Regions from separate parts of the Homo sapiens genome. Here regions 2 and 3 are each linked to region 1. Evidence: fine-mapped expression QTL. A gene starts in region 1. Each other region holds a variant in brackets. All regions are shown on one strand. Distances are between the middles of the regions. Region 1 holds the start of SLC1A7 (solute carrier family 1 member 7). Region 2 has its middle 23 kb from the start of SLC1A7. Region 3 overlaps SLC1A7 (solute carrier family 1 member 7).

What was found. PIP is the estimated chance that this variant, and not a neighbour inherited with it, causes the effect. A credible set is the group of variants that fine-mapping cannot tell apart.
Region 2: its variant is the best candidate, but not a certain one, in a credible set for the expression of SLC1A7 in left ventricle (GTEx, PIP 0.71).
Region 3: its variant is the best candidate, but not a certain one, in a credible set for the expression of SLC1A7 in whole blood (INTERVAL, PIP 0.71).

The regions. Positions count from the first base shown.
Region 1 is chr1:53,140,272-53,151,093 of GRCh38, forward strand. It overlaps SLC1A7 (solute carrier family 1 member 7), which reads right to left and starts at 2,367. Exons shown (of 11, transcript NM_006671.6): 1 at 2,044-2,367. The coding sequence starts at 2,178.
Region 2 is chr1:53,160,530-53,171,351 of GRCh38, forward strand. No RefSeq gene overlaps it. Among named protein-coding and RNA genes, the nearest start is that of SLC1A7, 23 kb to the left of the region's middle. The variant C/T (reference allele first, on the strand shown) is at 5,604.
Region 3 is chr1:53,098,990-53,103,989 of GRCh38, forward strand. SLC1A7 (solute carrier family 1 member 7) reads right to left here. Exons shown (of 11, transcript NM_006671.6): 5 at 4,357-4,579. Among named protein-coding and RNA genes, the nearest start is that of PODN, 39 kb to the left of the region's middle. The variant C/T (reference allele first, on the strand shown) is at 2,568.

The DNA of each region.
Region 1 (10,822 bases):
ATGAGTTTGGCTTTTAATAATAGGCATTCCAATTTGTTTTCACAAAATAATCTTCCTGCAGGAGATATATTTTTGTTGCTGAGGAAAATTAAAGAGAACAGATTGCAGATTTTTTTGTTCCATTGCCAGTTTAATGCAGCAGATAGTTGAGCGTTCTCTCTGTGCCTGACACAGGGCTAGGCTCACGTTTTGGTTAAAAAAAAAAACAAACCCATATGTTGTTCAGCAATATGCAGCTTGGTGGGAGAAAGAGACACCCATATAACCAGCTCTGAAGCCAGGCAGCCAGCAGCGGGGTTACAGTTACTTTCATCAGCTATGGATGATGAGATGGTTCCTGATGTAGATAGGACTTTAACAGGTACATAAGGGAGGGAGGGGGAAGTAACACGTAGTAAGCACCTACTGTATGCTGGGCATTGATGAATCCTTGGTTTATTCCTCATAATAATTCTAGTAGACATATACTGCCCCACATCCCATTTTACAGACAAGGAAACTGAGGCCCAGGGAGGAGAGAGGATATTGCCTAGCCATTTGCTAGCAGAGTCAAAGTTCAGGGTTTCTCTGCCTCCAGAGTCCATGCTTCTTCCTAAATAACTGCTCGAGGCTTAACAGGGTCACTATAGTCGTGGCTCAGTTCTCCAGGAGTGGGTGTTTTCCTTTTAATGGAAGACAAAGTCTAATGCCTGACCCCAGTTGTAGAGATGGCATTAGACATTAGTGAGCTGCGGGAAGAGGACTTTCTGGGAATAGGGACTCTTCCAGGAGCCCATTGACAAAGCCTCTCTCCTTGACCACACTTTAGACAGGCTCCTCTGAGCCCTCTTTTCCACTGGGCTTTGTCCTTGGGCCTTGTCTTCAGCCTGCATAGTCCAGCTGTAGCAAAAGTCCTGCCAAGTCAGTTTAGTGAGGATCCCTCACCCTCCAGCATCCTGATACTGGATCAAATTCCTCATCCCAGATCAATGTCTGATCACCCTGGCCTGCCTTCAACAAGAATCCCCCTACCCTGATGTCTCCTGTAGTCATTTTCTGTCCCCGACCCCCTCCCTCTGCTCGCTGGCTATAAATCTCCAGCCATCTTTGTTGTATTTGTGGTTGGGTCCCATCTCTCTCCCCAGGAGGTCTTGATAACTACCCCCCTACCACAATAGTCCTGAATAGAGCCTTCCTTACCAGTTTAACTAGTGGCAGAATGATTTTGTCCTTAACACCATGGGAATGTCCCTCCCTCTCCTGTAGGAGATGGGGGCTGACAGGGAAAGGGGCTCTTTCCCAGGAAACGCAGCTTCTTCATGGCAGTTACACAGGCTGGAAACCCGGGGCCTGGCTCCCCTTCCTGTCCCCCAGCCCACATCCAATCGGCCCCCACATCCTGAAGCTCCCCCTTTTGAAAACAGTTCTCACGTCTGTCCCTTTTGTCTGCACTGCCGCATCTCCCCCAGGCTGCCCCTTCTCGGCCCCCTGCCTGCCCCAGAATCACCCCCTCTCCACTCAGCACCTGAGGGGTCTCCCAAGCTCCAAACTGGCCTGTCGCTCTTCTGCCCAAAAGCATCTCATGGTTGCCGCAAGCCCACGTGTGGCGATGGGACCTATGGGCCTGCTGGCCTCTGCGCTCCGGCCGCTGCACCTGGCATCTGCTGTCACCTCTGCCTAGAGCACGCTTCCTGGATCTCTTGTCATTTGAGCAGCCTTTAGGAGGTGTTCTCTGGTGCCTGTTTGAACTCACACAAGACCCCCCTCTTTCCCCGCCACAGCTCTTGGCCCTGTGTTTGTCATCATGAGGCACCCTCGCCTCTCCTCACCTGATGGTGCTGGGTTTGTAATCACTCCCCAGCCACATCACTGGTTCTTCCCTCTAGTCCTGCAAAGTGTTTATCACACCCATGTTACAGATGAGAAAACCAGGACCCAGAGAGGCAGAGGGATTCACACACTGTCATGGCACCAGGGAGCTGTGATGCTAGAACGGGACCCCAGATCCCTCAGGCCCACACGCCCCTCCTGGACAGGGGTCCCGAGATGCTCTGGGTGGCTGACCTGTGGTGAGAGGCGCCGGGTCCTCAAGAAGAAGCCGAGGAGGCAGCCCACGATGACAGACAGCACAGACAGGATGAGGAGTCCATTCCGCCTGCACACGTCCCTCCCCCGTGCCAAGATGGCATGCGGCACCATGGTGAGCCTGGCCTGCTGGCAAGGGGCACAGCACCATTCCACGCATGAGAGCCCGGCCGGGGGCACAGGGTCTGGGCTGAGGGCTCTAGCCCCTCAGCAGGCAGGTGGTCGGAGTTGCTAAACACCAGTCGCCAGCCCCACGGCCATGCCCGTGTGGCCGCCTTAGAGGGAAGCCACAATCCTATTACCAGCTGCATCATTAGGAGCTGGGAGCAGATTAGGGCCTGGGAAATTAGAGCAGACCACGTGGTCTAGGAGTTCAGGCCTCAAAGCCAAGCGTTCCTCTTAAACAGTTGAGTGGACCAGGTACTGGAAGGAACAAGAGGAACATTTGCTTGGTTGGTTTGATCTTTACCCCTGCTTCCTTCCAGAAAGAATCAAAAACAAGACAGTAAGATATCAGTTTCCCTCAACATTAATTAAGCATTTACTATGCACCAGGTGCCATTCTAGAAGAGTGTTACATGTACTGGCATATTTAATCCTAACACCAATCCCAAGAAATAAGTACTATTAATATCACCATTTTACAGATAAAGAAACTGAGGTGGGTGGGTGCATGTGCTGCGGGCCAGGCCTGTGCTGGCTGCCTTAGCTATGCCAATCATAGGGAATTGTCCCAAAGATCCCAGGGTTCCCACCTTCATTTTTCAGAAAGGGAGGCTGAGACCCCAGAAGCCAGTCCCTTGGCCATGGTCACAGAGGTCAGAAGTCAGGGCTAGGCCAGTCTGTTTCCACCACATGAACAGGCAGATAGGTTCAAGGGTGCTTGGCAGTATTGTGGGGAATGTAGATTCGAGTCCAGGGGACCTGAGTTCAAAGGTGGGCTGTGCCACTCACCGGGAAATGGGACGTAGATGCTTCAGGGCTGTTTCAAGCCTGGTGCTGGGCACCCTGCAGGCTCTCTGGGCCTATTATTTTTTAAAGATGACAGAGCCCAAGAGACCCACATTCGGGTCCCAGCTCTGCCACTTACTAGCTGTGTGACCTCAGACAAGCATTTCATCTCACTGTGCCTCAGTTTCTCCATCTGTAAAATAGAGATGATAACAGCATCTACTTTGTTAGGGCTGGTACAAAATTCCACCCAGAGGGTATTTGGAAACGCAGTGTGAACCCTGGTGTGCTGAACAGGGGAACGGACTCTTAGGGTCATTATCACACTTAGTGCTTTGGAGAATAGGTGTCTTTTTGCTATTTCTTGTGGCCTGGCCTGCCCTGCCCTGTAAAGCCTGGGGGAATTAACCCTCGTCTATTTCACCAGAGATCTGTAATCTCATTAGGAGCAGTCAGGCAGCAGGCAGCAGGGAATGGGAAGTGCAGTCTGCAGTGAGGGTGGGAGGTAAAGGGTGGGGTGCACACAGGGGCTTCCTCCTCCTGACATAGGAGACAGGGGCAGAGGATGAAGAGGACGGGCCAAGTGGGGCATAGGGGAGAGGTGGGGAGAGGGGACTGGGGCACAGGCTCTGAAGCCATGGACAGAGCTCCTGACTGAGAAGATTCTGATCCCAATTTAATCAGCTCTGTGACCTTGCCGTCTCTGGGTATCAGTCTTGTCCTTTTTAGAATGAGAGAAATGGGCCCAGGTACCTTTGTCAAAGGAACTTCATTTCAACAAACCAATCTTCCAAAGCCCCTGCTCTTTGCAGTAGCTTGGGGTGGGGGGTGGGGGTGAATACAAGTCTGAGAGTTTTTTTTCCTCTGACTTTGACTCTTAAAACCAAAAGTTTCTTGCTACACCTTCAACTCCAACAAATGCCTCATTTTCCAAATAATCAGGTGGTTAGTTACTTCCCAGAAGAGAAAATATGCTAAGTAGGTATTTGGATTTGGGTTTTGATCAACTCCTGGGCTCAAACAATCCTCCCATCTTGGCCTCCTAACGTGTTGGGACTGCAGGCATGAGCCACCACACCCAGCCCAGACCTGGCCTTTAGCTGTGCCATGATATAGGTGAGTCTTGCTTTCTACCACAGCTCCATGACTCCCATTCCCAGGACGTGCCCTATAGCCACCACTGACTCCTCTCTCCCACAGGCTGAGCCTACCACTACCTGCCTACCAGACTACAGCCATTCTTTCCACTGTTCCTACGGTCTTCAACAGGAGAATTTCAACTCACTCTAGCAAATGTTCTTATAGCACCATTTAGTGTGCCACACCCCCTGGGTACTAGAAACACAACAGTGAATCAGACAGTACCTGCCCTGCCTTCAGGAAGCTTATAAGAAAGTGGAGAGACCCCAAGAACGGACTAATTCACACTAAAGTGTAAGTGACTGATAATGAGTTTACTAAGAATATTTGCAAATCAAATCAAGTCTCCTGGGTCAGAACCCTATAATAGTTCACCATTGACAAAGAATCAACTGCCTTTTACAATGTCACTAGATGTGCAAGACAATTTTTCCATAATTACATCAAAAGGAAGTTTGGGAAATGCTGGACGAAACAAAAAGTTAAGCACGTTATTTCCTCTGAGACAGCTCAAAGTCAGACTGCTAGAGTTAAAACCTCAGCTCTACCTTCAACCAGCTGTGTGACCTTGGGAACATTTCTTAACTTCCCTGTAAAATGGGGATAATGCAACAGTACCTAGATCATAGGGTTTTGATGTGGGTCATACAGTGCTGCATGCGCCATGGTTAGAGCGTGGCCCAGTGCCTTGCAGATAGCCCCAGGTAGTTACTATGAAAGTCTTTACAGTAGCGGCTGTGTCGGAGGAAGTCACCAAGTGGAGAATAGAGAATCCCACCCCTCCTCTGGAGCAGAGAACTCCCTGGGCCTGGTGTTTGGAGAACACGCCTGGGAAACCCCGGTCTGCAGCATCGAGTCTATGCTCCCCTGCAAGGCACTTTCACCCTTTTCCTCACCCTTTCAGCATTACCTCCTACTCCTTCCGTCACCCCTCCAGCTCCTATGACACCAAACCACTGCAGGGTCCTGGAACGCTGCATCCTGTCTCAGGCTTCTGCACCTTTGCCTGTGCTATTTCCTTGGCCTAGAATGTCCTTCCTTGTCACGAAAGTTACAGGTTAAATCCCCCTCTTCTTCGAAGCCTTCCCTGATTACCCTAGATACAATACCTTCTCTTTTTCTCACTCTAACTCAGGCCCTTCACAGTCACCAGCTGGGGATTCACCTAGCTCCCTTTTAAGTGGCTCTGACAAGGAAATAAGAATCTATGAAAATAAAATCAAATCTCTGTTTGTTACCATGTCATTTGAAATCACCTCAATGGAGAATCCTCAAAGTTGGAGGGTATATTGGCAGGGGCAGCGGGGTGCTAGGGATAGCCTGAGGAGCAAGGTGTTGTATAATGGGCAGCAGGCGGCCTCAGAGATGCTTCTGGGGAGGCTTGAGCTGGACAGACTGAGATGCTATGGCAAAGAAGAGACATGGTGTTGGCGAAAATGAACGCCAAGTCACAGGTGCAGCTGCCTCACCCTGCAGAAGCAGGTGTGCAGTTGAGCTGTTCTTCACCGGGCCCTCTGCTTGGGTTATGCTGTGGGGAGAGCAGCAGGGGTTGACTTATTTGCTAATGATTAATGATTAATGATTCGCCAGGGCTACAGGCAGGGCCAACCCAGCCTGGGAAGGCGGGGATAGGAAGGCTTCCCAGAGGAGACGTGGTTTAGGCAGAGGCCTCAATAAGCCAGGGAAGGGGGTGCTGGTCAAGGGAGAGGGGAGACGACAGTCTGATTTAGGCCGGAGGCGTGACAGCAGGGCCTCCCAGGGCTAGCAGTGCATCGGTGGGCTGCAGTGGCCATCGGGGCTGGGGCCTTACACCTTCCACCATGTGTCAAAATGAGTTTAGGTCTGGCCGGGTGAGCTCCCATCTGGGTCTGTCGTGACGACAGCTCGGGGTATGTTGGCTGCTTTCCAGAGACATACCAGAGGCGCCTTAATCTCCCTGACACGTCTTCCCAGCTCGCTGGAAGCTGGGCCCTTCCGGGAAGGTTTTCTGTGGGCAACAAATGCAGCTGATCCAGCTGGGTGTGGATTCCTGCGAGCTTTAGTCACCGAGGGGCTGTCCTGACCTCGCTGAGGGCTAGTCCTTTCCCACATTTGCCTCAGAGGATGGGAGAAAGTGACTCTGTGGTGGCAACTCAGACACACGCCTTCCTTTTTCCCTTCCAGTCCCCCGTCTAAATCTGTCACTTAATGGAAATGAGGCCTGGGCGCCCATAAGCCCCTGAGCCGCTCTGTGTTGAGCACCGACTGTGTACCAGGCTCTGGCTGGGTACTCTGACACCTTCACCTAGAAGGGCCCTGACCAGGGGGAGCCAGGGACCCCTCCACATTCACTGGGTCAGTCAAGCCTGGGGGCTCTAAGTCTGTGCAGTACAATTACATAGCATCCATTACACTACTTAAATTGAAATTAATCAAAATTAAATAGGACCAGGCCCAGAGGTTCATGCCTGTAATCCCAGCACTTTGGGAGGCTGAGGTGGGAAGATGGCTTGAGCCCGGGAGTTTCAGACCAGCCTGGGCAACATGGGGAGACCCTGCTTATACAAATAATTTTAAAAATTCACTGGGCATGGTCGTGTGTGCCTGTGGTCTCAGGTACTTCGCAGGCTGAAGTGAAAGGATCATTTGAAGCCTGGGAATTTGAAGTTGCAGTGAGCCGTGATGGAACTGCACTCTATGCTGGGCAACAGTGTAGGATCCTGTCTCAAAAAAAAATTTATATAGTTTAGAATTCAGTCCCTCCGTTGCACTAGCCACATTTCAAGGGCTCAATAGCTGTATGTGGCCAGTAGCTACCATGTTGGACAGCACAGTTAGAGAACGTTTCCATGATCACAGAAAGTTCTACTGAACTCTCTACAGTCACCCTGAACCAAATTCAAAGCTCAGCCTTTGGCTTGGAAGGTGTGCGACTTTGCCGAAGTTAGCGAACCTCTCAGAGCCTCTTTTCTGTGCCTATAAAAGCCCATGCACTTTCCATTGCATCATACTTCCTCTCATTTGCATATAAAAGTTAGGACAAAGTATAAAGTTAAACCCTCCAGCCAGTTTAGATTAGGTTTCCAAATTAGTTAGGATTTTTGTTAATAAATACTAGGAAACTAAATCAAGCTGGCTTTGGTTAAAAGGGAATTTATAAGCAGGGCTGACTGTGTAATTTGTGAGGCCCACTGCAAAATGAGCACGTGGGGCTCTTCTTTCCAAAAGCAGGAAAAAAGTGCATCAAAGGTACTAAAATATATAGCTTTATTTCTTCCACAGTTTCTCTCTCTCAACTTATCATGATGTTTTTTATTTGTGATTTTGTCATTCTTAAGTAAATAAAAATAACAATTTTAAATTAGTAGCATTAACTTTATCATTCACCTTTTTTTTTTTTTTTTTTTTTTGAGCTGGAGTCTTACTCTGTCACCCAGGCTGGAGTTCTGTGGCTTGATCTCAGCTCACTGCAACCTCTGCCTCCTGGGTTAAAGAGAATCTCCTGCCTCAGACTCCTGAGTAGCTGGGATTACAGGCGCACACCACCACGCCCGGCTAATTTTTGTATTTTTAGTAGAGATGGGGTTTCACCATGTTGGTCAGGCTGGTCTCGAACTCCTGACCTCAAGTGATCCGCCCACCTTGGCCTCCCAAAGTGCTGTGATTACAAGCATGAGCCACCGTGTCCGGCCCTTCATCTTCACACTCACTGTGCAATGCCAGTTTTAAATGCAAATATAAGAGCATTTAACTCACATGCAGAATCACCAAAGTTATACAGTTTGTATTTAGTAGCTCATACATGCGTGTGTATTTCATTTTTTGCCAGATGGTGGAAATGCTGCACAAAACTAATCCAACTGTTTTTATTTCACTTCTCAATGCATATCCATTCCATCTGTCCTCTCTACCTTTGACTCACTGATGAGTAAGGAAGAACTGGAAAGAAAAGGAACTCTGGTGGTCCTCTCATTCCCTTGCTGTTGATGTTATCACTTTCAGTGTTTAAGTAGTTGGCTAATGCAGGTGAGTAACACTAGTAAGAAAGGATATGATAAAATTCCTTGGTCGTTTGCATTTTTAGAATGCAATTTTTTGTTCTTCCTATGTTCGAAACAAGTTCTGGTTTGAGGAAAGTGAGGCTTCTCGTGAGTCTTGGTGCCTCTGCTTACTTAGCTGTGGACATAACACACTTACCTGACACCTATTTGAGTCTTGCTGAACTCCCATGCGTTGCCAGTTTACCAGAACTCTGTGCTCATGGGACATTACACACGCTGTATGAGGATGGAGTGGCAACTACCAGTGGCGGCATGTATATTGGACGTGTTTTTTCTGTTTGTGTGTATACTCTATTGTCCCATCAGACTTTGCTTATAAGACACAAGTTCAAAGATAAAATTATTAAGAATTTAGTGACAGTGACAACAGAGCATTAAACCAAGCACAGGGGCCCTTCTGAGCATGGGGCCCTGTGCTACTGCGCAGATCATAGAACCAGGAAACCGGTCCCATTTATAAGACCAGGTGAGCATGGGTTTTGCAGAACCCAAGGACAAGAGCAGAACTGAACTGCAAAGACCCTCTGAACCAGGTACTTGATTGTTAATGGAATTATCTCTCACACCAGCTCTCCTTTCTACATGTCTGATTTGTCCATTCATTCTTCATTCAACATATATATGTTGAGAGGTGGCATAAGGTATTGATTAAGAGCACAAACTCAGGAACCAAATGACTTGTGTTTGAATCTTAGCTCCTTCACCTACTCTTTTTGGAACTGTAGGCAAGTTACTCTGTGTTCCAGTTTTAGTTTTCTCATATTGAGTGTAGGGATAATAATATTCTACCTTATAGGGTTGTTATAAGGAGCAAATGAATTACATGTATGAAGCTTAAGACAGTTGTCTGATCATAGTAAGCACTATCTATCTATCTATCTATATCTATGTTACTATTATTACTATGTGCCAGACATATTCCGGACACTTGGAATACTGTAATAAACCGAAATAGACAACAATCCCTGCTTTTATAGAGCCTACATTTGGTGATGACATTTATGTTACATTATTCTTTCTCTAATGAACCCATCTCCACTACTACTGTGGTCCACAGGGAGGAAGCATGGCCACCAGCAGCTCTGTTTCACTCCAGTGCCACAGTTCTCAGGGAAGGTTCTGACTGGCCCAGTTTAGACCAATCTCCTGCAGCCAGTAGGGGCAGGGAGCAGGGTCACATTATTTACAGTTGCTGCTTCTATGGTAACTCTGTAGATGTGTGTAGTAGCAGTTAGAAAAGTGGATACATGAGGCAGACACAGCAAAATATCTAGTACATTGTCCCAGGCACTCAGCTCTTGGCATGGCTTGCTTAGTAAAACCTTGGTTTTCTGTTCTTTCTTGTGTAAAATGCCTAACATCTTATATCCAGTGAGGCTGCTCTAGAACTTAGGGTCAGTGGCTCGAGGTTCCTTGTTGCTTGTCTTCTTCTCTGATGTCTGCCTCGGCCCTTTATGGCAGCAGGCACCTGGGGCCTCACCCACAGAGTGCACAGGATTCACCAATGTTGTTGAGTTGTTGATTCATCAATGTTGTTGAAAAAATGTTAATTTTCTTCTCTGTGATATAGCATTCCATGATATGAATGGAATATTATATATAAGATACTGTTTATGAACGTTTGTGGTTTTTTTTTCCAGTTTTTGACCATCATTTTAACAACGCTGCTAGAAACATTCTTGAATACTAATGTACATGTACAAGAGTTTCTCTAGGATATATACGTAGCAATAGAATTGCTAGGTCACAGATTATGCAGATGGTCAACGTTAGTAGGTAATAACTGTTTCCAAATTAGTTTTACCAACTAATATGTTCACCCACAATGTCTGTAAGTTCCCATTGTTCCGCATGGTTACTGACATTTGATATTGATTAATTTTTAACTCTTGCCAATCTGGTAGGTGTGAAATGGTGTTCCATAGTGGTTTAAATTTGCATTTCCCTGATTAGTGAGACTGAATATATTGTCCTATGTTTGTGAGTCATCCATGCCTCCTCTTTGGTGAAATTGCTGTTCATTTGCCTATTTTTAATTGGGTTGTTTGTCTTTTCACATACATTATAAATATTCTTTATATAATCTGGATATTAACTCTTTATTGTTTATATGTGTTTTCCTGTTTATGACTTATCTGTCTTTAGATAAACAGAAGTTCTAACTTTTAATGTAACTGAATCTATCATTCTTTTTTGTTATGACTTGTCTCTGTCTTATTTTAAAAACCTCCCACTCCAGTAAAGTTATTCTTCTGTGTAAATTTCTAAGAGTAGTTTACTTTTCCTTTTCTCATACAGGTAATTAACTAACCTGGTTAAAGACTGATGTAAGAGTCTAATATCCCGTTTTCTTTAAGATCTACTAATTGTCCTAGTATCACATATTGAAAAATCTATCCTTCCACCTGAAACTAAAATGGCTGCTCTGAAATAAAATCAAGTTCTGTATATGTCTGGGTCTGTTTCTGGGTTCCCATTGGTTGGTTTGTCTATATCTTTGTCAATACCACTCTTGTCTGGATCACTATAAGTTAATGATAATTTTTGATACTTTGCAAGGCAAGTCCTATCTTTGTCTTCTTCAGGAATGTATTAGTTTTCACTGGGCATGGTGGTTCACACCTGTA
Region 2 (10,822 bases), 20 kb after region 1:
CACTCTTCTGTATATTGGATTCTTGGCCCCATTGATGGAAAAAACATTTCTTCCTTTATACATAATTATTTACAGCTACTTATGATGGGGTTGTGGCTCAGAAAATCCATCATGAAGTCAAAGAATGGTTAAGTCAAGCCAACCTATGTTGGGAACCACCTGTATAGTGATATATATTAATATTTATATTGAAAAATCATAGGAGAAAACATGTAGCTCAAAAAAAAATACTACTTTCTTTGTGCCTGACACAGAGTGGATACTACATAAATATATGTATACAAATATTATAGATAAAACTAACTTTCTTTTGGTATCTGTTACCTTCTTTAATTTTCAAAGTTGATGCATAAGGTGGATTATAGGAAGAAAAGGTGGTTGAGGGCCACAGGCAGAGAAGCTGGTTCCCTCCCTCAAGTCCAAGAGGAGAGCTCAGGCCAGAGATTGGAGATGAGGCCAAAGAGGTCTGCTGGACCCTGAACCAGAATGAGAACATCTGAATGACTTCTGAGCAGGGCAGGGGCCCAGGCATCGTGGCTGCCAGTCACATGGGGTGTGGGAAGCCTGGCCTGGGCCAAAGGTCCAGGGCCACAGAGTATTGTCCTATGAAGGCAAGAAGGCCCCTAGCCCTAGGCCCCTCCCTGTTCCCACAGTGGGGTTGTGTACATGCTCACTCGGATTCCACAGGGCAGGGGTCACATAGCTGAGGCCACAAAGCCAGTATGGGGAGAGCCTGGTGCTCCCCCAGCCACCTGACTATTTCCATTCCCTGTGGCTGGTCCACAGGGAACCATGGCATCCTGGTTGCAGGTACCCACCCAGAGAGGAGTGGAGGGGAAAGGAAAAAGGGGTGCCTTTTCCTTGAGGGAAGGGGCCTGGTCATTTGCTTCTGATAGGCCCTGATCAGCCCTGTAATAAATTTTGAATGAGTTACTAAATTCTGATTTTCAAGAACTAAATTTTAGGTAGAAAACAATATTAAAAATTAAAAGTCAAACCAAAATTTAAAAAACTACTTAAGTGACCAGGCACGGTGGCTCATGCCTGTAATCCTGGCACTTTGGGAGGCCAAGGTGGGTGGATCACGAGGTCAGGAGTTTGAGACCAGCCTGACCAATATGGTGAAACCCCGTCTCTACTAAAAATACAAAAATTAGCTGGGTGTGGTGGCGTGCTACTGTAATCTCAGCTACTTGGGAGGCTCAGGTAGGAGAATTGCTTGAACCTGAGAGACAGAGGTTGCAGTGAGCCAAGATCATGCCACTGCACTCCAGCCTGGGCAACAGAGTGAGACTCCGTCTCAAAAAACAAAACAAAAACTACTTAAGCATAAGTCAAAAAACAAGAGACAAACTGGGAAAAATTATTTGCAGCTCATATCACCAAGGATTAATTCCCTTAATATATAAAAAGCTTCTAGAAATAAAGAAATACAAGATTATTAATTGATGTGGTTTTGCTGTGTCCCCACGCAAATCTCATCTTGAATTGTATTATAGTTCCCATAATCCCCATGTATTGTGGGAGGTAATTTAATCATGGGGGTGGTCAACGTCATGCTATTCTCATGACAGTGAGTGAGTTCTCATGAGATCTGATGGTTTTATAAGGGGCTTTTCCCCCTTTTGCTCGGCACTTCTCCTTGTTACCACCTTGTGAAGAAGGACATGTTTGCTTCCTCTTCTGCCACGATTGTAAGTTTCCTGAGGCTTCCCCAGCCATGCTGAACTATGAGTCAATTAAACCTCTTTCCTTTATAAATTACCCAGTCTCAGGTATGTCTTTATTAGCAGCATGAGAATGAACTAATACCTCAATCTCACAGAAAAAAGAGCAGAAGACACAAAAAGGTAGTTTACGGTCAAAGAAATACAGATGGCTTTAAACATATGCAAAGGTGGGCAACTTCATTCAATAAATATAGATTAAAACTACACTAGGTGGCTGGGCAAGGTGTCTCACACCTGTAATCCCAGCACTTTGGGATGCCAAAGTGCTAGGATTGCTTTAACCCAGCAGTTCAAGACCAGCCTGGGTAACATAGAGAGACTTCATCTCCACAAAAAAATAAAAAATTAACTGGGCACGGTGATTTGTGCTCGTAGTCCCAGCTACTCGGGAGACTAAGGTGAAAGGATCTCTTGAGCCTGGAAAGTCGAGTCTGCAGTGAGCAGTGATCATACCACTGCACTCCAGCCTTGGTGACAAAGCGAGACCCTGTCTCAAAAACAAAACAAAACAAAGTACACTAGGCTACAACTTTTCACCTCACAGACTGGCAAAATCCCAACACATTCTGTTGGTAAGTTTGTGGTGAAGCAAAATGCTCTCATTCATTGTAGATGGGAATCCTTAAGGAGCAGCAATTTGACAACATCTATGACATTTCCAAGTTTATTTACCCTTTGATCCTGCATCTCACATCTAGGAATTCATCCTCTGATATGCACAAGCACGAAATGACACATGTGCAAGGTTAGCAACTGCCATAATAGCAAATAGTAACAGCAAAAGATGGAAATAACCTACGATCATTCAGTGGGAATTGGTTAGTCTGTGATACATCCACACGATGACTTCATAGGGATGTATAGAAAATAATAAACTTTGTACCTAAATGGAAAGATCTCTAGCATACATTAAGTAATAAAACTATGGTGCAGATTAGTAATTGTGTAAGAAAAGAGAAAACAAGAATAAACACCTGTGTTACCAGTATTTATGAAAGAGACATTGGAAAGACACATTAGAAACTAAGAGGAATGTGTGTTTATTAACAGAGAGCAGCGGTTCTCAAACTTCAGCGTGGATTAGCATCACAGGGAGGGTTTGTTAAAATGCAAACCACTGGCTCCCGCTCCTACAGCTTCTGATTCAGTGGGTGCGGAGTGGAGCCACAAAACCTGCATTTCTTTTCTTTTTCTCCTTTTGCTTTTTTTTCTTTTTTCTTTCTTTCTTTATTTTATTTTATTTTATTTTTTGAGACAGGATCTTGCTGTGTCATCTTGCTGTGTCACCTAGGCTGGAGTGCAGTGGCGCAATCCTAGCCCAATGCAGGCTCATACTCCTGGGCTCAAGAAATCCTTCCGCTTTGGCCTCCCAAAGCTCTGGGATTGCGGGCGTGAACCACCGTGCCCTGCCTAAAAATGTGCATTTCTAACAAGTTCCCAGGGGTGCTGACGCTGCCAGTCAGGGAACCAAGTTTGGGCCAGAAAATGGAATGGAGTTAGAGGCTGGAGCAGGTCTTCTCAGGGTACATCTTTTCTATTTTGATTTTTTAAAAACTTGCAAATCTATTACCTACTCAAAAATAAGCTTAATTCAAAAAACGTTTAAAATGTTCAATAAAAGAAGCTGCTCCTCAGTCACTCCCTACTTTCTTAGCTTGTTTTGTTTTTCTTTACAACAATTAATATTGTACCTAAAATTATGCTATTTTTTTTTTTACTTTCTCTCCCAACTAGAATAGGGTAAGGACATTGTCTTCTATTTCCCTCTATTTCCAACACTAATATTGTGCCTGCCACGTAGTAGGTACTCAAGAAATAGCTGTTTGGCCAGGTGTGGTGGCTCACGCCTGTAATCTTTGGGAGGCTGAGGTGGGTGAATCACTTGAGGTCATGAATTCGAGACCAGCCTGGCCAACACGTATTTTTCTCTACTAAAAATACAAAAATTAGCTTGGCATGGTGGTGTATGCCTGTAGTCCCAGCTACTCAGGAGACTGAGGCAGAGGAATCTCTTGAACCCGGGAGGCAGAGGTTGCAGTGAGCCGAGAACGCGCCACTGCACTCCAGTTTCAGTGACAGAGCAAGACTCCATCTCCGAAGAAAGAAAGAAAGAGAGAAAGAGAGAAAGAAAGAGAGAGAGAGAAGGAAAGAAAGAAAGAAAAGAAAGAGAGAAAGAAAAAGAAAGAAAGGAGGGAGGGAGGGAGGGAAGGAAGGAAGGAAGGAAGGGCTGTTGAATGAATAAAGGGAATGAATGAATTCTCTTAGTCTTCAGTAGATCAGTGATCTTGGTAAGTCACTGGAGAGCTTTTAAAACATACCCATATCCCCATCAAATCCCCAGTTCTGAGTGAATTGTTTGGGGGTGGGGCCCCGCATTGAGTTGAGGGTGATGGGAGCCCCTGGTCTAAACCACAGCTATGTAGAGACTTATGGTTTGGATTGTGCATATAAAGTGAGTATATTAGTATATAGACCCTGCTGCATTTTTGTACATTGCTTTGGGGGCTGGTTCTGAGGCTCTTTTTGATCTGGAGACCCTAACATCCTTTCCCTCTCTTTTCTCTTTCAGTTGCCTACAGATCTGGAAGCCTTGCTGAAAAGACACCTTAATGGCCTAGCAGCTCTTTTAGGCAAGGAGCAATTCAGATGTTGAATGATGGAACACAAAAACCCACAGCAGACATGGTGGCTGATGCTTGTAATCCCAGCACTTTGCAAGGTTGAGGTAGGGGGATTGCTTGAGCTCAGAAGTTTAAGACCAGCCTAGGTAACACAGTGAGACCCCATCCCTACAAAAAATCAAAAAATTAGCTGGGCATGGTGGTGCACATCTGTAGTCCCAGCTTCCTGGAAGGCTGAGGCAGGAGGATCTCTTGAGCCCAGGAGGTCAAGCCTGTGGTGAGTTGTAATTGTGCCACTGCACTCCAACCTGGGTGACAGAGCAAGACCTTGTCTCAAAAAAATAAAATAAATTGGTGTTGCGGTTAATGGTCTTCATGTAGGTTTTTCCCGCTGTGGAGCAGGGCAGGACAATGAGTCTGGATGCTGGCTCCCCTGCATTTTAGTTCTGCAGTGAAGTTGTGGGGCCTGAGGGCTCAGGACACTGTGCTGCAATCATGCTGCATAGTCAGAGTGAAAAAAGACTGGGTTAGGGAGTCACAGAGTCACAGCATCCAGCCCCATTGGCCATTCAGCAATTCTGTGACCTTCCATCTCTGGTCAGTTTCCTCATCTGTAAAATGGGGATGCTAATGCCTGTCTCTTAGGGCCACTGGGAGAATGAAATGTTAGTTATTTTTCGGCTTTTCAGTTGAGTTATTGCATCAGCTACGTTCGTAGTTTACCCCCTTGGTTTATTAAGTAATAGTTGTAAAAGTTTATAACAGGTCACGAATTGGCGGCACCTTTGTATTGATTGGCACTCAAAGTGACTTACAAAAACTTGGCTTAATTGCCAACATTTAAAAACTAGGGATCTTACATAAAAATCTGGATTTGTGGCTTCATTGGAAACATCTGCATGACCACAACTGCTGGAGCTGAGAGTCAGCTGCTTGTTCCTGATCCCAAACCCCATGACTCCTGGACACCTTCTGCCTCCTACCCCTTATCTCCCTGGATTCCCTGAGTGGCTTGCTGCTGGAGGCTGTGAGTACCTAGTTTATAACCCCAGTTGATAAAGTGCTTTCACCTGCTTCATCTCATTAGACTTTTACCTATGAGGGAGGTGTTAGTATTGTTCCCTTTACAGGAGAAGAAACTAAAGCTGAGATGTTACAGGACCTACTCTGGGTTAGTAATAACAGCAACCGCAATAAATAGTAATTTGTACTGGCTGTTTACCATGTGCCAGGCATTATTCTAAGCACTTTA[C/T]ATGTTTAATTTAATTCTCTCAATCTTATCAGATATTGTCATTATTCCTATTTTATGAATAAGGAAATTGAGGTAGTGACAGGTCAAGTAGATTTCCCAAAGTCACACAGCCAGAAAGCTCAAAATAAACTGAAGACTTCTGGGTCCTAATCCACACTTGTTCCAGAGTCCTGCAGTGCAGGCTTTCCTTCCTTTCTCTCTTTCTCTTCTTTAAAATGGGTGAGTCTATGGGGCCCAGCTTCTGGTAAGAGTTTGTAAGTGTTGTTTGGTGGGAGGGGTGGGCTCGTGTTTTGTAGGATTTGTTCCCTGCTGCCTCCTCAGCACCTGCAACAATGCCTGGCATGTGGCAAGAGCACAAGAAAGAGTGAAAGCCAATGGCAACAGGGCAACATCGGCAGCTTTCAGGGCTCCAGTGTCTCTAATGATTGGCACACGGGCGAAGACCTACTACGTGGCATGCAGTGGGTGGGCTCCCAGCTCTTGAGCAGCTCAAGTCCAGGTAAGAATCACTGACAAATGAAATTCAAATATGGGGTGTGTGTGGACATGAGTCGCTTGCCAAAAAGTTACCTTTCCCCTTAAAAATAATCAATGACCCACTTGTGATATTTGCATTAAAGGCTAAACATTGAATAAGGGAAGTCAAGGCTGCAGTGAGCTGTGATTGTACCACTGCACTCTGGCCTGGGTGACAGAGCAAGACCCTGTCTCAAAAAGGACAAAAAAAGAAAGAAAGAAAAAGTCCGCCAAACAAAAACCACTCGGATTTATGATTCACCTCCTTTTTGCTTTAGGAAAACAAATTATTGGCCATAATTCTCAAAATGGAGTTGGAAACTGAGCTGCTAGCACTGGATGACCTCTATCAAGAAACTAGCTACATCTCAGGAACAAGATAGTTTCTGTTCAGTTCAGCCAACCCGAGCTCCTGCCTGGGCTGGGCGTTGGGCTGGGCACCGAGGCTGCACAGCTGCTGAGCTCTGGCCCTGCCTCCAGGAGCTCAGTCTGTGGGATATGTACTGCACAGAGACAGCTCGGGACTCTAGACATAGCTCGGAGGGTAAGGGAAGTCTTCCCGGGGGAGGTGTCAGCTGGGCTGAGTTTCGATGAACTAATGTTGTCCAGGTGAATAAGGGAGAGAATGGATAGAAAAAGCGCAAGGCAGTAGTGAGACTCATGAGAGATCTGGAAACTTCACAGCTTCTGTGGTTCTCCATGGACTTGCTGTTGTCTGAGTGTCCACATGAGTGAAGGTGGAAGAATGGGTGTGGGCTCTCTGTCCAGGCAGGTGGGGTCCCATCAGGGATAATCAGTATCTGCCCAGTAATGAAGATTGTTTTGACACATGCAGGTGGTGCTGCACTCTTCCTTCCAACCACTGCCCATTAGGGGACAGGCCGAGTCAGTTTGTGCCTATCTTGCCCTATCTCCTTCAATGAAGAAAGTGAATGCTGCAAGTAATACATGTTCATTGTCAAAAACTAAGAAAAATGTAAATACCCCATAGGCCAGGTGCGGTGGCTCACACCTGTAATCCCAGCACTGTGGAAGGCAAAGGCAGGTGGACTGCCTGAGGTCAGGAATTTGAGACCAGGCTGGCCAACACAGCAAAACCCCATTTCTACTAAAAATACAAAAAATTAGCTGGGCGTGGTGGTGCATGCCTGTAATCCCAGCTACTCAGGAGGCTGAGGCAGGAGAATCACTTGAACCCGGGAGGTGGAGGTTGTGGTGAGCTGAGATTGCACCATTGCACTCCAGCCTGGGCAACAAGAACAAAACTCCATCTCAGAAAAAAAAAAAGAAAATTCCCCGTAATCCAACCCTGAGAAATAACTTTTTAGTTTATATTCCCAAATATTTTTCTATGTCTAAATTTTTTGTTTTGCAGAAACATACATATTGGTTTTTTTCTTTTCTGTTGTGGTAAAATATACATTACAGAAAATTAGCAAAATCATGGAACCAACCCAAGTGTCTACCAGTGGTTGACTGGATAAAGAAAATATAGTACACATACACCGTGGAATACTATGCAGCATGAAAAGAATGAAATCATGTCCTTTGTAGCAACATGGATGGAACTGGAGGCCATTATCCTAAGTGAAGGGGTGGCCTGCCCCTCCACACCTGTGGGTATTTCTAGTCAGGTGGGATAAGAGACTTAGAAAAGAAAGAAGACACAGAGACAAAGTACAGAGAAACAACAGTGGGCCCAAGGGACCGGCGCTCAGCATACCAAGGACCTGCACCGGCACCGGTCTCTGAGTTCCCTCAGTTTTTATTGATTATTATCTTCATTATTTCAGTAAAAAGGAATGTAGTAGGAGGGCAGGGTGATAATAAGGAGAAAGTCAGCAACAAACACGTGAGCAATAGAATCTATGTCATCATTAAGTTCAAGGGAAGGTACTATGATTGGACGTGCACGTAGGCCAGATTTATGTTTCTCTCCACCCAAACATCTCAGTGGAGTAAAGAATAACAAGGCAGCATTGCTGCAAACATGTCTCGCCTCCCACCATAGGGCGGTTTTTCTCTCATGTCAGAATTGAACAAATGTACAATCGGGTTTTATACCAAGACATTCAGTTCCCAGGGGCAGGCAGGAGACAGTGGCCTTCCTCTATCTCAACTGCAAGAGGCTTTCCTCTTTTATTAATTCATCTCAGCACAGACCCTTTACGGGTGTCGGGCTGGGGGACAGTCAGGTCTTTCTCATCCCATGAGGCCATATTTCAGACTATCACATGGGGAGAAACCTTGGACAATACCCCACTTTCAAGGGCAGAGGTCCCTGCGGCTTTCCGCAGTGCACTGTTCCCCTGGTTTATTGAGACTAGAGAACGGCGATGACTTTTACCAAGCATATTGCTTGTAAACATTTTGTTAACAAGGCACATCCTGCACAGCCCTAGATCCCTTAAACCTTGATTTCATACAACACGTGTTTTTGTGAGCTCCAGGTTGGGGCAAAGTGGCTGGGGCAAAGCTACAAATTAACATCTCAGCAAAGCAATTGTTTAAAATACAGGTCTTTTTCAAAATGGAGTCTCTTATGTCTTTCCTTTCTACATAGACACAGTAACAGTCTGATCTCTCTTTCTTTTCCCTACACCTAACTGACAAGCAGAAAGTCAAATATTCCATGTTCTCAGTTATACATGGGAGATAACAATGGGTACACATGGACATACAGGTGGAGAAAACAGACAGCAGGAACTACAAAGTGGGGGTGGGCTGACAAATTCCCTATTGTGTGCAATGTTCAATATTTTGGCAAAGCTCAATATGGTGGGGATTGGGATTCTAGTGTACCCATCACTAATAAAAATCAAAATAAAAAATCAAATCACACTACACACATGCAAATATGTGACATGATGGATATTTTAATTAGGTTGATTTAATTATTCTGTAATGTATACATATATCAAAAAATTCCATTGTACCCTGTAAATATATACAATCATTGCCAATTTAAAAAATTCATTGTGGGCCAGGCGTGGTGGCTCACACCTGTAATCCCAGCAGTTTGGGGGGCCGCAGCAGTTGAATCACCTGAGGTCAGGAGTTCGAAACCAGCCTGGCCAACATGGTGAAACCCCGTCTCTACTAAAAAATACAAAAATTAGTGGGGTGTTGTGGTGCATGCCTGTAATTCCAGCTACTCAGGAGGCTAAGGCAGGAGAATCACTTGAACCCGGGAGGCGGAGGTTGCAGTGAGCCGAGATCATGCCATTCATTGCACTCCAGCCTGGGCAAGAGAGCGAGACTTCGTCTCAAAGAAAAAAAATACATTGTGAAATTAAAAAAAAATACTTTCTCATAAAATTTACAATTTACAATTTTATCCATTTTTAAGCATGCAGTTCTGTGGCACTGAGTGCATTCAAATTGTTATGCAACGATCACCATCATCCATCTCCAGAACTTTATTTTTATTTTTTTATTTTTGTATTTTCTTTTGAGACAAAGTCTCACTTTGTTGCCCAGGCTGGAGTGCAATGGCACAATCTTGGCCCACTGCAACCTCCACCTCCCTGGTTCAAGCGATTGTCCTGCCTCAGCCTCCCAAGCAGCTGGGATTACAGGTGTGCACCACCACGGCTGGTTAATTTTTGTATTTTTAGTAGAGATGGGGTTTCACCATGTTGGCCAGGCTGGTTTCGAACTCCTGACCTCAAGTGATCCACCTACCTCAGCCTCCCAAAGTGCTGGGATTACAGGTGTGAGCCACCGTGCCCGGCCCAGAACTTTAAAAATATTCTCCAATGGAAACTCTGCATCTATTAAACAATAACTCCCCATTTTCCCTCCTCCCAGCCCCTGGCAACCATCATTCTACTTTCTCTGAATGCCACCACTCTACGTACTTCATATAAGTAGAATCATAAAATATTTGTCCTTATGTGGCTGACATATTTCACTTAGCACAATGTCCTCAACGTTCGCCCATGCGGTAGCATATATCAGGATTTCCTTCCTTTTAGGCTGCAGAGAATTATGATCGCGCCACTGCACCCCAGCTTGGGTGACAGAGTGAGAACCTGTCTCTTAATTAAAAAAAAAAAAAAAAAGAGTCCAGGCATGGTGGTTCACTTCTGTTAATTCTACCACTTCGGAAGGCCAAGGTAGGAGGATCCCTTGAGTCCAAGAGTTTGAGACCAGCCTGGGCAACATGCTGAAACCCCATCTCTACAAAGCCCACAAAAATTAGCTGGGTGTGGTGGCACACTTGTGGTCTCAGCTATTTAGGAGACTGAGGTGGGAGAATAACTTGAGCCTGGGAGGCTGAGGCTGCAGTGAGCCAAGATCACACCACTGCACTCTATCCTGGGTGACAGAATAAGACCTTGTCTAAAAAAACAAAAGAATTTCCTTCCTTTTTAAGTCTGAATAATATTCCACTGTATGTATAGATCACATTTTGCTTACCCATTCACCTGTCAATGGACATTTGGATTGTGTCTATGTTCTAGCTATTGTATATACTGCTTTTTAACTTAATCTATTATGAACATCTTTTCAGATGAATAATTAAATTTTCCCAATGCCTTTTTTAGTGGCTGCTTTATAGTACATTACCTGACTGTTCCACAATGTAGTTGACTATTCCTTGAGGGTTGGAAATTTAGTTTGTTTCTGATTTTTTGCTCTAATATACACGGCTGGAATAAATCCCCTACGAACAACATCTTTGCATGCCTGGCTGATTA
Region 3 (5,000 bases), 44 kb before region 1:
ACACACCACCTCTCATTACACTTATACTGCCTCAAAACACTCACACCCTGCCTCTGTACACTCACAACCCACCTCTGTACACTCACACACCCCGCCTCGGTACATGCACACATACCGCCTCGGTAGGCTCACACATACCATCTCGGTACAGACACACGCTGCCTCGGTACACTCACAGAGTCTTGGTACACTCACATAACCTGCCTTGGTACACTCATACACACCGCCTCAGTACACTCACACACCGCCTCGGTACACTCACACTGCCTCAGTACCTCACATACCGTCTCGGTACACACACATACCCCGCCTTGATAGACTGACACACACCACCTCGGTACGCTCACACTGCCTCAGTACCTCACATACCGCCTCGGTACACACACATACCCTGCCTTGATAGACTGACACACACCACCTCAGTACGCTCACACAGCCCGCCTCGGTATACTCACACAACCTGCCTCGGTACACTCACACACCTCGCCTCAGTACACTCAACCGCCTCAGTACACTCACTCACACCACCTTGGTACACTCACACACCCCACCACAATACCCTCACTTTGCCTCGGTACACTGACACATACCACCTCAGTACACTCATACCCATTGCCTCAGTATACTCACACCACCTTGGTACACTCACACACCCCGTCTGAGTACACTCACACACCTTGCCTCAGTACACTCACACTGCCTCGGTACACTCACACACACCACCTCGGTACACTCACACCCCTCCTTGTTACACACACACCTTACCTTGGCACACACCCTGTCTCAGTACACACACACACCATCTCGGTACACTTACACACCCCACCTTGGTACACTCACACACCCTGCCTCAGTACACTCACACATACCACCTTGGTACACTCGCATTGCCTTGGTACATTCACACACCCCAACTCAGTACACTCAGAAACCATGCCTCTGTACATTCACACACCACACCACCTCGTTATACTCACACCATCTCAGTACACTCACACACTCCATCTGAGTACACTCACACACCTTGTCTTGGTACACTCACACCACCTTGGTACACACACACCTTGCCTCTCTGTACACTCACACACCCCCACCTTGATACCTTCACATACACCACCTCGACACACTCATACACCCCGCCTCAGAACACTCACACATCCACATACACCCACACACACCACCTCAGTACATTCACACACCCCACCTTGGTATACTCACACACCCCACCTTGGTACACTCATACAACCTGCCTCGCTACACTCACACGCACCGCCTCGGTACACTTGCACACCCAACCTTGGTACACTCACACACACCGCCTCAGTACACATACACACCCCGCCTCAGTACACTCACACAACCCAACTCAGTACACTCACACGCCCCACCTCGGTACACTCACACACCCCGCCTCAGTACACTCACACGTCTTGTTTCAGTACACTCACACGTCCCACCTCGGTCCACTCATACACACTGCCTTGGTGCACTCACAAACGCTGCCTCGGTACATTCACACACACCACCTCGGTACACTCGCACACCCAACCTTGGTATACTCACACACACTGCCTCAATACACATACACATACCACCTCAGTACACTCACACAACCTGCCTCGGTACACTCACACAACCCGTCTCGGTACACTCACACACCTTTCCTCGGTACACTCACACGACTTGCCTCGGTACACTCACATGCCTTGCCTGTGTACACTCATACATACCACCTCGGTACACTCACACACATTGCCTTGGTACACTCACACACTGCCTTGGTATACTCACACACTTTGCTTCAGTACGCTCACACACCCGCCTCAGTACACTCACATCACCTCGGTACACTGCCATACCCCGCCTCAGTACACTCACACACTTTGCCTTGGTACACTCAGACTGCCTCAATACATTCACACACCCCACCTCAGTCCACTCACACACCCTGCACCGGTACACTCCCACACCGCACCTTGGTCCACTCACACACACCACCTCAGTCCACTCAGATACCCTGCCTTTGTCCACTCACACACCCCACCTTGGTACATTCACAAAACCCGCCTCGGTACACTCACACACACCACCTTGGTACACTCACACACACCACCTCGTTACACTCACACACACTGCCGCAGTACACTCACACACCCCGCCTCAGTACACTTACACACCCTGCCTCGGAACACTCACACAAATCGTCTTGGTACTCTCACACTGCCTTGGTACACTCACATACCCACACGCACTGCCTCGGTACACTCACACACCCCACCTCGGTACACTCGCACACCCCACCTCGGTACACTCGCACACCCCACCTCGGTACACTCACACACCCCTCCTCGGTACACTCGCACACCCCGCTTTGGTACACTCACACACACTGCCCCATTACACTCACACACACTGCCTTGTTACACTCACACTGCCTCAGGACACTCACACATCTCACAACGGTACACTCACACCACCTCGAAACACCCACACACACCACCTCGGTACACTCACACACCCTGCCTCAGTACACTCACCCTGACTCGTCACACTCACTCACCCTGCCT[C/T]GGTACACCCATGCCTACTCGGTACACTCACACAACCCGCCTCAGTACACTCACACACCCCACCTCAGTACACTCACACACCTTGCCTCGGTACACTCACACTCCTCATCTTGGTACACTCACAAACCATGTCTCGGTACACTCACACCAGCTTGGTACACTCACACAGTGTCAGTACACTCATACACCCTGCCTCAGTACACTCACACACCCTGCCTCGGTACACTCACACACCCTACCTTGGTACACTTACACACCGCCTCGGTACACTCACACGCACACTCAGTACACTCACACGCCCGCCTCGGTACACTCACACTCTTTGTCTTGGTACACTCACATGTCCCACCTCAGTACACTCACACGCCCTGCCTCGGTACCCTCATACGACCTGCCTCAGTACACTCACACAAATGTTCACAGATGCACGGACAGTTACACATGCGCAGCGAACGCTCAGCGAGTTGAGTCCAAGGGTCTCCGGTTCTTTTGTTCTGCCAGTAGATGCCCTTCTCTTATGTTCCCAGCCCTGAGAAAGGCTGAGTTTGGGGACTGCTTGTCAGATGTGCCGAGAGGCACTTTCAGACATTTTCGTTTCACACACTTGGGTCACCGAGGCCCCGGCCCCTCTGCACACCTGGCGTTTTGGCCCAGATGAGAAGAGCTCCATTACCCATTGTCACCCAGCCGTCCACCCATCTCCCTACCAGGTCTGCTGAGTGCCTGCTGTAGCCACGGCAGCGGTGGGCTCTGGGGTGGATGGAGACAAGCCCGTCAGCCTGTATGGGGCTGGTCATGGCTGTGCAGACAGCAAGCAATGATATCCTTGCAATCGAGTCTAGTGCTCACAGAGTAACCAGGCAGTGTAGCTCGGGGCACTCGGCCTAGTCTGCGGAGGACTCTCCTGAGGGCATGGCACTTGTGGGGAGCACCCTGAAGATGACAAACGTGGAGGGGGAGTGGCAAGAGCAGCCGGGCTGAGGGTTGTGCGGAGAGGAGCACACGGGCCAGTCTCACGGGGCTTTTCAGCCGGCACTAGGGGTTCGGCCCCTTTCCAGGGGCAATGGGCAGAGCACGGTCAGACTTGTGACCTCCTGAGCTGGACACACCAGCAGGGACAGCCGTGGAAGTTTTCTAGGCAGCTTTCACAGGAACCAGGCGAGAGACCACACGGCCTTGACCCGGGCAGTGACGCGGGGTAGAAGGAAACGCACGGCTTGGAGGGGACTTTGGGGGCAGACCCGACCGGATGCAAAGGTGGGGGCCAAGGCAGAGGACGAGGTAGAAAGTCACCCCTAGAGTTTTTGCATGAACGAGGTTGGTGAGGTCTTTTCCTTGACAAGAAAACCCAGTGGAGGAGTCGGGGATGGCAGGCAGGACATTTCCACAGGCTTTGTGGGGTCTGAAGCTTGTATAATTTGGGACCCATCTTTAAGAAAAATAACACAAAATTTAAAAACCAAGGTGCGGGCCTCCAAGGGGCTTGCATAGGTGAGGGGCCTGGCATCCCAGAGGAGGGCAGCAAAGGGAAGGGTGTGGCAGGGATGCCAGCTGCGGGCCTAAGAAATGGCCCAGACGGGCCTGAGGGGGAGGTGCCAGGGGGAAGCCCCTGGGGTGGGGTGGGGAGGCGAAGGATTTAAATAAACAGGTGTGGTGAATATTTCCAGTTTTTCACAGTAAACCTCTCCAGCATTCTCCCCAGACCTCAGTAAGAGGTGGAGGAGCAGGCTGCTGGGAGGGGCTGGGGGCCCGGCTCCACGGCACTGCTGGGCAGGTGGGCAGCACATACCCATGGTGGCAGAGAAGAAGACGATGCCCAGCACATTCATGCCATCGCTGGTGCCCGGCTCTGACTTGTAAACGACCTCGGGCGGCGGGGTCAGGTCCAGGGCGAAGTTCTGCACATGGGAGCCATTCTCCTCCTGGACCCCGTAGATGAGGATCCGCCGAGGAGGGGCCTCCTCTGGTGCCACCTTGGGGGACTTGACAACTGGGGTGGTCTTGGTGCGGTACTGGTGGGTGACACCCCACCCAGAGAGAAGTCAGGGCCAAGGGTTGTTACTAATATTAACGACAACAATAATAGCATCTTGAAGGCACATTTGTATCCATTCCTATCCTATTTGATTGACAGTAACCCTGTGAGGCAGGCAGAGCAGGGATTGCTATCAATATTTTACCCAAAGAAAGCTGCAACTCCTTCCTCTACCACCACACCACCCAGCCACGCTGCCTCCTGCCTTCATTCCTCTTCTTACTTCTATACCTCATCACCCCATCTGGGTCCCTCTTAACTGCCTGCCCAGCCCCTTATCCACCCAAGTAACCCTTTATCCACCCATCTGTCCCCTCCCAATCATCCAGTATCCATCCACCTGGTGGCCTGCTGGCCCTGCTGCCCACCAGGTGGAAACTTGGACCTTCTTTTTGAAG